4 linked regions of the Homo sapiens genome follow. The protein of the gene in region 1 purifies or fractionates together with the protein of each later gene. This does not show direct contact. Each region holds a gene or a part of one and is shown on either strand. Other genes may lie near its edges.

Region 1 (3,500 bases):
GGAGGCACCCTCCTTTCAGACATCTGCTCTGGGCCACAGATCCTTCTGTCTGTGGCTCCCCACCTTCCCACAAATGCAAAGCTGTGGGGAAGACCCCTGGGGCACGCTGGGGCGCTCACTGCAGTGGGGAGCTTGACCCTGGGGAGTGGCTTTTCACAGTGGCCCTTGGCATGGGACTCTAGGCTCTCATGCCTGTGGTCTCAGTGTCATCTCGCCTTAGGAGCAGCACAGGGTGGGTCGGGAGAGGGGTGTGGAAAGGTGTCCAGCCACTGCCCCAGGCATTGTGACACTAGGAATGGACTCACACAGGACTTCCTGCCTCCTTGCAGACACTGGGGCAGGAGGAAAGGGGAAGGCATCTGAGGCAGGAGTAGAGGGGCTGCTGGGCTCCTTACGGGAGGTTAAAGGAGGAAAAGCTGTGACCTGTTGAGATGGTGAGGGTCGAGGTGGGAGCCCTGAGGAGGGAAGCTTGGGAACAGGCAATGTGTAACGTGGTCTATTGCTACACTTGGGCCTGGGGAAAAAGTGACAGAATGAAAAGTTGAGCCACTGGCCTGGCAGTAGCACTGATCAGAGCTCCAGCTTAACAGGCAGGGTGGAGGGGGATGGCCCTATGGAAGAGCAGTGTGTTGCCCTCAGTTTCCTTATCTGTAAAATGGGAATCGTACTCCCTTTGTTGCTGGTGGTTGCGAGGATTAAACAAAATTCTCCACACACTGTGCTAGCGTGGCACCTCTTACATAGCGTTACTCATAATACACTAATCACAACAAAGCAAAGGTCCTATGCCACTGCCTCCCACTCCTACTCAGTCCCCACTTGCCACATGTGTGCTTGGTAACCTGAGTAGCCTGGGCCTGGCTGTTGCTACATTTCCTTGCAGCATCCTGAAAGATTTCAATGCCTGCAAGTGTCAGAGCCTTCAGTGCAAAGGTGAGCCCCAGCCGTCCTCCCATAGCAGGGAGCTCTATACCTCCAAGTGGACAGTCACCTTTGCTGCTGACCCTGAGGACATCTGCTGGTAAGCTCCTAGACCAAGGAGAGGTGGGAGAGAGGCCTGGGTTCCTGGTGGGAGCTGCCCATCACCTGGAGCACAGGTGTGACCTGGCAGTCAATGGAGATCTCCACACATCTGCAATTCTGTGGGCTGTGATGCTGTGATGTGCTCGGTGTGGCCCAACTGGGGTATCTGCCCAGCCCTTCCCTCCAGTGTTCCTCCCTAGCATTCAAGTGCTACCCAGCAGAAATATAATGCCAGTTCTGCATCTAATTTTAAATTTCCTAATAGCCATGCTAAAAAAGTAAAAAGAAACAGTTGAAATTAATTTTAATAATGTATCTCGCCCAATATATCCAAACTGTTATTTCAACATGCAATTTTTGAAAAATGTGAGATGTTTTACATTCTCTTTTTCACACTTAGTCTTCAATATCTGGTGTGTATTTTACACTTCTAGCACCTCTCAATTCACACCAGCCACATTTAAAATGCTCAGTAGCCGCATGCAGCTTGTGCAGCCTTACTTAGGTCCAGTGTCAGCCTGGGGCCGTGCTGGGGAGCTGAGCTGTGTCCATGGGGGCCCTGGTGAGCCTCCAGTGCTGTGCTGAGGGTAAGGGCACCCAGCGCAAGCCCCAGCGCAGCTGCCTGTCCAGCCCTGCCTCAGCTCCTTGCACAGAATGAGCTTGAAGTGCTCCCCTCTGCTCGGTTCTAGTTCTGCCTCTGACAGTTTTGCTCTTTGGTTCACAAGGCTTCCTAAACTCAGGATTGCTTTGTGGGTCTGTTCTTTGGGATGAGAGGCCAGGGCAGGTGCAAGCTATGCCTTCACTCCTTTGTCCCTGCCTTCCTCCTTCCTGTACCCCAGCTACAGCCCCGTTGGGAAGAATGTGTCGTTAGTCACAAAGCATTGCAGATGTGTCTAAGAAATGCCACGCTGGGGCCGGGCGTGGTGCTCACACCTGTAATCCCAGCACTTCGAGAGGCTGAGGCAGGCGGATTGCCTGAGCTCAGGATTTCAAGACCACCCTGGGTAACATGGTGAAACCCTGTCTCTACTAAAAATACAAAAAAATTAGCTGGGTGTGGTGGTACACGCCTATAGTCCCAGCTACATGGGAGGCTGAGCAGGAGAATTGCTTGAACCTGGGAGGCAGAGGTTGCAGTGAGCCGAGATCACACCACTGCACTCTAGCCTGGGTGACTGAGCAAGACTCTGTCTCCAAAAAAAAAAAAACAGAAAAAGAAAAAATAAATGCCATGCTGGAGCCTTGTTTGGCCTGCTTGGGTGCTCATGCCATCTCTTTGGGTAGGTTCTGGCCCCCAGACTTTAGCTGGGGAGCCACATCTGAGAGAATAATTGTTCCCTCTGAGCTCTTGGGGACCTAAGATTTGGTCTTTCTGTAGTTGAAGGTCAGTGCAGAGAACTTGCCCCCAGGCTAGTCTCTTGGTCTGCCTAAATCTGACCTTCTGACCCACCTAAGCCACGAGCACTGGGAGACAAGCCTCGAGACCTGTATCCCCTCTCCCGCTGCAGGAAGAACCTCTCTATCCAGGGCCTCCGCTGGTGGCTACAGTGGCTGGGCATCAACTTCACCCTCTTCCTGGGGCTATTTTTCCTGACCACACCCTCCATCATCCTGTCCACCATGGACAAGTTTAATGTCACCAAACCCATCCATGCGCTGAATGTGAGTAACTGTTCTGCAAGGCCCCTCCCAGGATAGCTGGTGAGAAGAGGGCTTGGTGGGTGGGGAAGGAGTGGGGACAGGAGTGGGGTGTGTGCGGGGAACTAAACCAGTGGGTCATGTTGCTCAGCTCACATCCTTGCTTTTAAGCCCTGAGCAGGCATGGCCACATTTATTACAAAGTCCTTATAGTAATGCCATACACACACACACACACACACACACACACACACACACACACACACACACATTATATGTATATATACACACACATGCATACATATATATTTTAATAGACTATCTAAATACTGAATGGTAGGGATCATTTGAGTTGAATGTGGTATATTCAGGTTGGTAGACTATCAAGCATCCATTCAAAATTGTATAGATTTTGTGGCACCCATGCAGGGCTCCTGACAGAAGCAGGGATGTACCAGTGAGGCATGTCTATCATGGACACTACGGGGAGGGGCCAGGAAGGAAGGAAAAAAGCTTCGTTGATTGGGGTGGCAGGATCACAAATTATTTCTTTTACATTTTGGTTGCTAATGACCTTGTTATAAAACTATTTTGGGGCCGGGCACGGTAGCTCACGCCTGTAATCCCAGCATTTTGGGAGGCCAAGGTGGGCGGATCACCTGAGGTCAGGAGTTCGAGACTAGCCTGGCCAACATGGCACAACCCCATCTCTACTGAAAATACAAAAATTAGCTGGGCGTGTTGGTGGGCGCTTATAATCCCAGATAGTCAGGAGGCTGAGGCAGGAGAATCGCTTGAACCGGGAGGTGGAGGTTGCAGTAAGCCGAGATTGCACCACT
Region 2 (3,500 bases), on another chromosome or scaffold:
GTATGCCACACTGAAAAGTTGAATTACACAATTTAACACTAATTGTATACTTGAATTACTGACGGTTAGTTCACATTAGCCTAATCTCTCCAAATAAAGTCTGAGTTTCTTAAAAACAAGATAAAGACACTATAATTGTTATGCATTTTTATGGTGAAAACACAGAGGAATGAACCATACATATGGAATAATCCAAGACTGGGAGGTAAAGATGCCTTTGAAGACTGGGATAAAGACTAAAAATCCTGATTGTAAAGTTCATTCCATACCTACATGACAATTCCGAGTCAGTTAATCCTAACCACAGCAAAGACCCAAGTGAACTACACAAAATTAGCTTCAGGGTGATGCTGTACTACAATACAATGGAGATACCAGATGAGGGTTTCCTTCTGTATAGGGTCCACGGAATCAGTCATGCTTCATTTTTTAACAACATTGGCTAATGAGAGAGCAAATGTTAATGGAATCTAAATCACTGAATTGAGTAAAAGGATCTGAAAATATTTTATTAAGCAAAATTATGAGCCAAACACTTTGCTAGGCACCTTCACACAAATCACAGTCTTTAATATGAGCAGAATGTGTGAACGATTTATCTATATAAATATTTAAGAAATATTCACTGAGCAACTACATAAACTGAAAATACACAATGAGATAAAGTTTAAATGAGAAATACTAGGATAAGCAAAAAGAAAGTAGAGCAAGCTCTAAACAACTAGACCATGAAAAAATGTTAAATGAAAAAAAAAAACACCCAAAAATATGGTACAGACACTAGATAAAATTAAGTATTAATAAAAAATGGACTTAAACACAAACAAGTTTAGAACCCATAGTGAGACACAATGACTCTTTGAGGTAGGTCAAATATAATGCGTTACTATTAATAAAATTGTATTTTTAAGAAAGTATATTCAATAACATCCCTCTAAGTAAATGAATCTCACTCAGCTGCATTTCTATATGCCTTTCAGAAAGATACAAAAAGTAGTGGAGATAAAGTCAGAGTTGCTATAATTGCGTACAAACCACAGACACATGTAATCTTCCTACTGGACTCTCCTGAGAATCACTGATATTAAAGGTTAAGAATGAATGTAATAGAATTTTCATGTTTGATATTGTAAAGTTGACAATGAATAAGATTTAAGTTAAAAAATAAGTCAGGCTTTATTGATGCAATCCAAATACACTGGGTTGTATTACTGACTACAGGAAAGCATGCAGTACTTTGCTTGGATCTAAATTAGCTCTTTGAATCTAAACAAATGAAAAGCCCACCCCGATTTAAACAGAGTAAAAATGCTACCTTTCAACGTGTGCAGGAGGTACTGCATTGCTAAGTTACTGGCTGCTAAAGTCACCTTTCAGTTGTTAAACCCAAGGGCCTCTTTTCAGCCTTCATTCTATTTGCCCTTACTCTACAACTCCTGACATAGCTGAACATTTCCTTCTTTTAATTTTCCTGTTAGCATCTTCTTTTTTAAACCTTCCTGTGTTTTCCCACCCTTCTGAGCTCAGTCTCTTTTTCTAGTTCTTCCATTCATACTTTATATCCTGTTGTCCCCTGGGTTTTGTCCAAACTGCCTTCTCGTCTAACAAGAAAAGTCTTCCCTGGGTGATTTCATCCATTCCCATACTTTACTACCTACTATTCATAATTGTGATGTCTAAATATCCATCTCATTTGAACATGCTTTTTCTTTTGCAAATCTTCTGGTTTCTACATACTCTGCCTAAAGAATCCATCTTTCCTCCCCCTGGCAAAAACCTCAGGCTTTAAGATCTAAAGTGTCACTACCTCAGTGAAGTCTTCACCAACTTTCCCAAATAGCGTTAGTTAATATCCTAGTTTAGAAATCACTTTGAAGTACACCATCTCATGAGATCCTCACAAAAGAGGCAAGTATTATCACATCCCGTCTAGAAATGAGGAAACTGAGGTTTGAAGAGATCAGCAACTTGAACAAGGAAGCACTACTACAAATGGAAAACATCAACTTAAATCCAGGTCTTCTAACTCTGGGCCCAGTGTTTTTTGTTTTTTCTTCCCATTTTCATTTATAGAGACAAGGTCTCACTATGTTGCCCAGGCTGGTCTGGAACTCCTGGGTTCAAGCAATCCTCCTGCCTGGGCCTCCCAAAATGCTAAGATTACAGGCAGGGGCCACCATTCCCAGCCTCAGTCTTCCTTCTAATACACCAAGATGCTCTCAAAGGAAAAGAGATTTACAAATTTAGTAGCTTTACTATTGTAATTAAGAAAAATTAATTAGTCTTGTCTGTTTCTAGAAATTAATTCCTAATTAAATGTTTAATCCAGTAACAGAATTATTAAAATTATTTTTAATTATAGGCACACATACCCAAATTGGTTAAAAGAAGTTTTTTTTTAAATGAAGAAAAACAACTTAGAAAAAAACAGAAAATAAAAGTTGAGAATATTTTAAAAAGAAGGAAGGGGCCAAGCACAGTGGTACACGCCTCCAATTCCAGCACCTTGGGAGGATGAGGCAGGCGGATTGCTTGAGCCTAGGAGTTCAAGACTAGCCTGGGCAACATGGCAAGACCCCATCTCTACAATAAATACAAAAATTAGCTGGGCATGGTAGCATGCACCTGTAGTCCCAGCTACTCGGAAGCCTGAGGTGGGAAGGATCACTTGAGCCCAGATGGTTGAGGCTGCAGTGAGCCATGATCACACCACTGCACTCCAGCCTAGGCAACAGAGTAAGACATGTCTCAAAAAATAAAAAATAAGAGTACAAAAATAAGTTCTTTACATTTTAAATAAAGAAATTGAAAATCTTGAAGCCAATAATCTAATACACAGGCCTTTTTAGCCAATAAATTAGGTATAGGATCTACTTTCATAAAGCCATCTAATTCTGCTTCTGTTTGAAGAGAGGAGAAGATAAATAATATTGATAAATAAGATTAAATTCAGAAAACAAAAATTGCCGATAATACTATGACTAGGAAGTACCTAGGCATCATTGAGATGGTTAGTGAAGGATCAGTGAACACAGAGCTCTAGGCCAAGAAGCCAAAGAGCAGAACAGCAGAGGGAGTTGCAGCTGAAACATTACCATTTTGCAGCCATTGTGGAAAAGACAGGTTCAGGAGATTGATCAATGGTTGTTAAATGTAGAAGTGGTCCATTTAAAAAAGAGCAAGACATCTGCATGGTCTCAGTGTCTCCCCACAGATAATTTGAAAAAAAAAAAAAAAAAAACAGAAATGACACCACAGAGAAACTGGACAACCCTGTGACTAGGAAAATTAACATCATGAAGATGGACAACCTATGCCTCCAAATGTAATAGTTCAAGAAGCATGCATCACCTATGGTAGTATCCCAGCCAAGGATACATAACCTGAATCTAAACATGAGGAAACACCAGCAAACCCAAAAACTGATTAACATAAAATAAAATAATAGGCTTTGCAATCCTTAGATATGTCAAATTCATGAAAGACAAAAAAGGCTAAGG
Region 3 (2,448 bases), on another chromosome or scaffold:
CCACTGAAAGTGCTTCCTTGACTTGAAGTCGCCCGCTGTCCAGATGCTCCTCTCTCCCCTGCCCACAGGCTCAGTCCTCAACCCTCTTGTCCCTCGGCCACAGCGCTCACCCCCACACCTCCAATCATCATCTCTGGGTGGAGACTCATTTCCTCTCCTGCCCACTCAGTTTCCCAGCTGGCTGGTGGACATCTGCCCCCAGAGATGCTTGGACAACCCCAACCGAATGCGTTCCACATCCAAACTCCTGATTGCCACCCTCCCAAACCCCCTCCCTCTCTCGAGAGCCCCATCCTTGCGCCTCCTCGTTACACGGGCTCCACCTGCCAACACCAGCTCTGCCATTCTCCTCTCCCTCAGCCTCCACGAGCCATCATCGGGTCCTTCCCACTTCCTGCTTCCAATACCACTATTCTGGTTCTCCTTCCCAAGTGCTGAGCACAGGGACCTGGAGAGCACATGCTGAGACTGTTAGAATGAACTGCCATTTGCCTCAACCGTTCACTCATCCAACAGTTATTTATTGAACGCCATGGACCAGGTACCGTGCCCAGCAGCTGGGATGCAGCACTGAACACGAGACAAGCCCCTGCCCTGGAGGGGCTTACATCCCGGCAGGGTAAACAGCCAGTAACTTCAGAAACCAAACATCCAGTACGTCAGAGTGCCATGGGAAAGGTACGCTGAGCAAGGGCGGGCAGTGCCAGGGCTGGGGTGCCACTGTACAGGGTGATGGGGAGGCCCTCCTCCCTGGAGAGGGCGGCATGATCCTAGTGGGCCGAGGTCAACCGCCAGGGTCAAACGGAACACAACCCACTCTCAGGAAGACATCCCTAACACAAATCCAGGGACTTTGTTTCTTAACCTTAAAATTGGAAACACTTCTTGCTACCAGGGATGGGGGGTGGGGCTCAGCGTTTGGGGAACCGGAGTGGGAGTCTTTTGCTGAACAGACTTTTGTTTTCTTAAGTTTTGAACTACATGAATGTATTTCCTTTTTTGAAAGGAAAATTGAAATAGGAAAAAATTTTAAGTCTTTTGGAAAGAATTAATCATTTTCATGGAACTGCTTCCCTATAGGGGCCTGTTTTCGTATCTGCCAACTTCCACTGAAACACGCAGATGGAGAACCCTCCAGTGCTCCCGAGAAGGGAGACAGTCTTAACCCAGAGGACAGCATCCACCAGCCTGCAAGCACGGACCCCGTGCTGGTGTGTGAGTGCAGCACACACTGGGCTAACCATCACCACAGTGAGACTGGCACCCTCTGGGGTAGGGTAGACTCAGGAAGGTGAAAATCAGGATGTCTGCCAGGAGCTGACAAATCCCTCTGGGACTCTCATACTTCAGAGGCTCTCCAGTTTGGCTATTGCTAAACTTGGACTAGCCCCTACTACCGATCTTAATACCCATGTACCAATCATTGCTGCATCCTATTTGGAAAGCAATGGACAGACAGCCACGCTGAAAGCCCTTACTAGAGACTGGTCCACAAGATCAGATTTAGCTGCCCCTGGTTTGAGCCTTGCTCCCCTGGTGTCTTTTCTGGCGAAGCTGGGCCCAGAGAGCGTTTTACTAAGTGGGCTCCATGGTAGTGGAAGTGGTGGGGACAGAAGGCTGGCTCTATATGTGGCAGAGGCCTGAATAAACAGGGATTTGAGAGGGCTCAAGATATCCTGACTTAATCCTCAATGTGGCAGGCACAGGGCCATGGCCAGGCCTAGAGGAAGGTGGGCTGTTTGGGGTATGGCCCAGCAGGGCACGATGTGATCAGGTAGGGCGTAGGGAAATGGGTTACTGTCCTCTAAATATTCCATATATCACAAAGTTACTGACTGCGGTCTCCACAAATTCAGGCTGCCAGTCCGATGCACTATATCCCAACAATCTGAGCACTCTGTCAAAGATGCTCACAGAGACAACAGGAGCAGACAGAGCCTTGTTTCTCTCTTAATCTTCAGAGCCTAGAACTGAGCTTGGCCCTCACCAGGCACTTAGAAATTGCATAATGAAAGAATTTCAGATTTTTATTAGTGGCAGTGAGCACTGAAAACCCAGTATTTGGCCAGGTCCAGTGGCTCACACCTGTAATCCCAACATGTTTGGGAGGCCAAGGCGGGAGGATGGCTTGAGGTAAGGAGTTAGAGACCAGCCTGTGCAACATAGTGAGACCTTATTCTACTAAAAAAATAAAACTAGCCAGGAGTGGTGGTTGCGTGCCTGTGGTTCCAGCTACCTAGGAGGCTGAGGTGAGAGGATCACTTGACCCCGGGGCTTCGAGGCTGCAGTGAGCCATGATCACACCACTGCACTCCAGCCTGAGCCACAGTGTGAGACCCCCATCTCACAAAAAAAGGAAAGCCTAGTATTCTATACAACCTTAACCTATTTTTTTTTTTTTTTTTTTTGAGACGGAGTCTTGCTGTGTTGCCCAGGCTGGAGTGTAGT
Region 4 (3,500 bases), on another chromosome or scaffold:
ACGGGGCGGCTGTCCGGGCAGAGGGGCTCCTCACTTCCCAGTAGGGGCGGCCGGGCAGAGGCGCCCCTCACCTCCCAGACGGGGCGGCTGGCCGGGCGGGGGGCTGACCCCCCCACCTCCCTCCCCGACGGGGCGGCTGGCCGGGCGGGGGGCTGCCCCCCCCACCTCCCTCCCGGACGGGGCGGCTGTCCGGGCAGAGGGGCTCCTCACTTCCCAGTAGGGGCGGCCGGGCAGAGGCGCCCCTCACCTCCCAGACGGGGTGGCTGGCCAGGCGGGGGGCTGACCCCCCCACCTCCCTCCCGGACGGGGCGGCTGGCCGGGCGGGGGGCTGACCCCCCCCACCTCCCTCCCCGACGGGGCGGCTGGCCTGGCCGGGGCTGACCCCCACCTCTCTCCCGGACGGGGTGGCTGCCGGGCGGAGACGCTCCTCACTTCCCAGACGGGGTGGCTGCCGGGCGGAGGGGCTCCTCACTTCTCAGACGGGGCGGCCGGGCAGAGACGCTCCTCACCTCCCAGACGGGGCGGCGGGGCAGAGGTGCTCCCCACATCTCAGACGATGGGCGGCCGGGTAGAGACGCTCCTCACTTCCTAGATGGGATGGCGGCCGGGAAGAGGCGCTCCTCACTTCCTAGATGGGATGGCGGCCGGGCAGAGACGCTCCTCACTTTCCAGACTGGGCAGCCAGCAAAATTTTAACTTTTATATCTGTTTTACCACAATAAAAATACAAAGAAAAGTTGGAATTAATATTTGTTTTACCTATCTCATAAGGTCATTGTGAAGGGGAAATAAGATTAGGATGTTTGAGATGTCATTGGGATTATCTTTAAAAATCTGAAAAATGTTTAAGCAGACTCAAAAATAGGCCTTTGAGTAGCTCTTTTTTTTTTTTTTTTTTTTTTGTATGTCCCCTTATATGTTTTTTATGCAGCCAGAAGTTGGGTGAAACAATGATTTAAATAAACTAATATTTCAAACCTAGTCATATTTAGCAGCAGTTGCCATAAATTACTTTGCATAGTTGCTATGAAGTAAGTTGATGATTAAAATTAAGCTCAGAAATGCATATTTTTGAGTTTATACCTAAGTTGTTTTTCAGTTACAACTTTGTCTTATTCAATAACATAAAAATGAACATTTGTTAGCCTTTCATTCTAGTTTACGTATATAATTTTAAAAAATCTTACTAAACGTGATCCTGAAATTTCTTATAGGCAGTTTTCTGTTATCTTAATGAGAATATGTTTTCTTATAAGCACAAAAAAATTCAAGTACCTTTCGTGCCACTGTTGGGAGGAATTTTTACTATGAGAGACTTGAGCTCAGAGAACATACATATATAGTTTTCCTTTGGTGTGTGCATTATGATTTTGTTTAGGACATTAAAAATAGGCAGTGTAAACATAACAAATTTGCTAAGGAAGAGACCCGAACAAATTTTACTCTTGTTTATTGTTCTTTTTTAAATCCCCATCTAGATTTGGAGGTTGATATGTGGAAGAATAATTTGCCTTGATTTGAAAGATACTTTCTGCAGTAGTCTGCTTATTTATAATTTTAGGATATTTGAAAGAAGATATGGAAGCAGAAAATTTGCAGTAAGTTTTTATGTATTTTGTCTTTGCTACTTAGGCTGTAGAAAAAAATTTTGTTTAAATGGATTTTATTTTGTTAAACTTGGTGTTGTTATTTACAGTTATCTTTTTAATTACACTATTCTGTATCTGATTTGAGGCACATGGACATTAACCAAAGAAAATTTTAAAATGTAAGACATTAGCATAATAATAATAGTGATAATGATAATATGTAGTATTAGTTGTGAACACTAATACAAATTTTAATACTTTGACTTTAATAAAATTATAATTTATTTTGCTTAGTGGTTTGTGTTTTACTTGTTAAAAATATATCTTCAACATACTTAAAAATTATGGCTGTTAATACATTTGAGCAATATGGGTTTACCCCGCCCATTTTCTAAAGTCTATTTTAATAAAAACAAATAATTTCAAATATATATACACACATATGCATGTGTGTATATACACACACACACATACATATGAATACACACCTCTGAGCTGATTCTAGCTGAATAAATGTTAGTTTATTTTTAGGAGACTCATCTCTATCATTTTTCTGCTGTTTTATTTTGTAGTCCTTTTTGCTGGGTTCCTGGGTTTTGTCAGCCTTATTTGACTTTCTCCTCATTGAAGCTATGCAGTATTTCTTTGGCATCACTGCAGCTAGTAATTTGCCTTCTGGATTGTAAGTAGCACTTAAAGATTGACTTAATTTAGAACTACTTGAATCTGATTTAAAGTGTTATTATTATTATGTGAAAGTCAGTAAAATAATATTTTAAACTTCTAGATATAGTTAAATTGATTTTATATGTAAAAAGTCTAATCTATGCCTACATTTTTATTATGTTCTTGAAATAGAATCAATTTTATATTCTTTCTTTAAAATTTATTTTACTTTTTTTTTTTTTGAGACGGAGTCTCGCTCTGTCACCCAGGCTGGAGTGCATTGGCACGATCTCGGCTCACTACAACCTCCGCCTCCCGGGTTCAAGCGATTCTCCTGCCTCAGCCTCCCAAGTAGCTGGGACTACAGGCACGTGCCACCATGCCTGGCTAATTTTTGTATTTTTTAGTAGAGACAGGGTTTCACCATGTTGGCCAGGCTGGTCTTGAACTCCTGACCTCAGGTGATCCACCCGCCTCGGCCTCCCAAAGTGCTTGAGCCACTGTGTGAGCCACCTTGCCCAGGCACCTTCTTTTTTTAGCTTTGAAAGTTTGTGTTTTAGAGAATTTTAAGTGAATTTCCTATTCTGATCCTGATAGAATTAGTTTTGTGTGTTTTTATAGTGAAATTTGTCTTTGTAATTTTATGAACTAAACACAAAAATATAGTTTAATTAGATTAGGAAACAAAATTAATTTGTACGAAGTTAAGCTTCTGAAGAATAATTTTTTAAAAGCTGATAATGTTTAAACACTTCCATCAAACATAAAACAAAGCCGGTGTATAGGTTATAACTTTGTAGACAACCTGCCGTGGCCAACCCCACTCAGAATTTGTATGCTTTCATATTGCGTTGATCTTCTTTAAAAAAAACAAAAACCATGTATTAGTGTGTGAAATAACTAGAATCTAGGAGTAGAGTTGACAGAACGAGACTCCATCTCAAACAAACAAACAAAAAAACAGGCCGGGCGCGGTGGCTCATGCCACCTTTGGGAGGCCGAGGTGGGCGGATCACGAGGTCAGGAGTTCAAGACCAGCCTGGTCAATATGGTGAAACCCCATCTCTACTAGAAATACAAAAATTAGTTGGGCGTGGTGGCACGTAGTCCCAGCTGCTCAGGAGGCTGAGGCAGAAGAATCACTTGAACCCGGGAGGCAGAGGTTGCAGTGAGCGGAGATCGCTCCACTGCACTTCAGCCTGGGTGACAGAGTGAGACTCCGCCTCAAAAAACAAACAAAATACC

Evidence for each region. Proteins that work in one complex are often made in the same cells at the same time.
Region 2: the proteins of TMEM63A (region 1) and AP3B1 purify together in Homo sapiens (affinity purification with mass spectrometry; 2 studies listed by BioGRID and IntAct, with this or other methods). This does not show direct contact.
Region 3: the proteins of TMEM63A (region 1) and AP3S2 purify together in Homo sapiens (affinity purification with mass spectrometry; 2 studies listed by BioGRID and IntAct, with this or other methods). This does not show direct contact.
Region 4: the proteins of TMEM63A (region 1) and UBAC2 purify together in Homo sapiens (affinity purification with mass spectrometry; one large-scale study listed by BioGRID and IntAct). This does not show direct contact.

Annotation. Positions count from the first base shown.
Region 1 is NC_000001.11:225,858,381-225,861,880, reverse strand, and holds part of TMEM63A (mechanosensitive cation channel TMEM63A), read left to right. Parts: intron 1-883; coding exon 884-1,021; intron 1,022-2,531; coding exon 2,532-2,685; intron 2,686-3,500. UniProt on the Homo sapiens protein: Mechanosensitive cation channel with low conductance and high activation threshold. In contrast to TMEM63B, does not show phospholipid scramblase activity. Acts as a regulator of lysosomal morphology by mediating lysosomal mechanosensitivity.
Region 2 is NC_000005.10:78,288,199-78,291,698, forward strand, and holds part of AP3B1 (AP-3 complex subunit beta-1), read right to left. Parts: intron 1-3,500. UniProt on the Homo sapiens protein: Subunit of non-clathrin- and clathrin-associated adaptor protein complex 3 (AP-3) that plays a role in protein sorting in the late-Golgi/trans-Golgi network (TGN) and/or endosomes.
Region 3 is NC_000015.10:89,830,099-89,832,546, forward strand, and holds the end of AP3S2 (AP-3 complex subunit sigma-2), read right to left. Parts: 3' UTR 501-2,448; downstream 1-500. UniProt on the Homo sapiens protein: Part of the AP-3 complex, an adaptor-related complex which is not clathrin-associated. The complex is associated with the Golgi region as well as more peripheral structures.
Region 4 is NC_000013.11:99,242,354-99,245,853, forward strand, and holds part of UBAC2 (ubiquitin-associated domain-containing protein 2 isoform 1 precursor), read left to right. Parts: intron 1-1,478; coding exon 1,479-1,598; intron 1,599-2,161; coding exon 2,162-2,271; intron 2,272-3,500. UniProt on the Homo sapiens protein: Restricts trafficking of FAF2 from the endoplasmic reticulum to lipid droplets.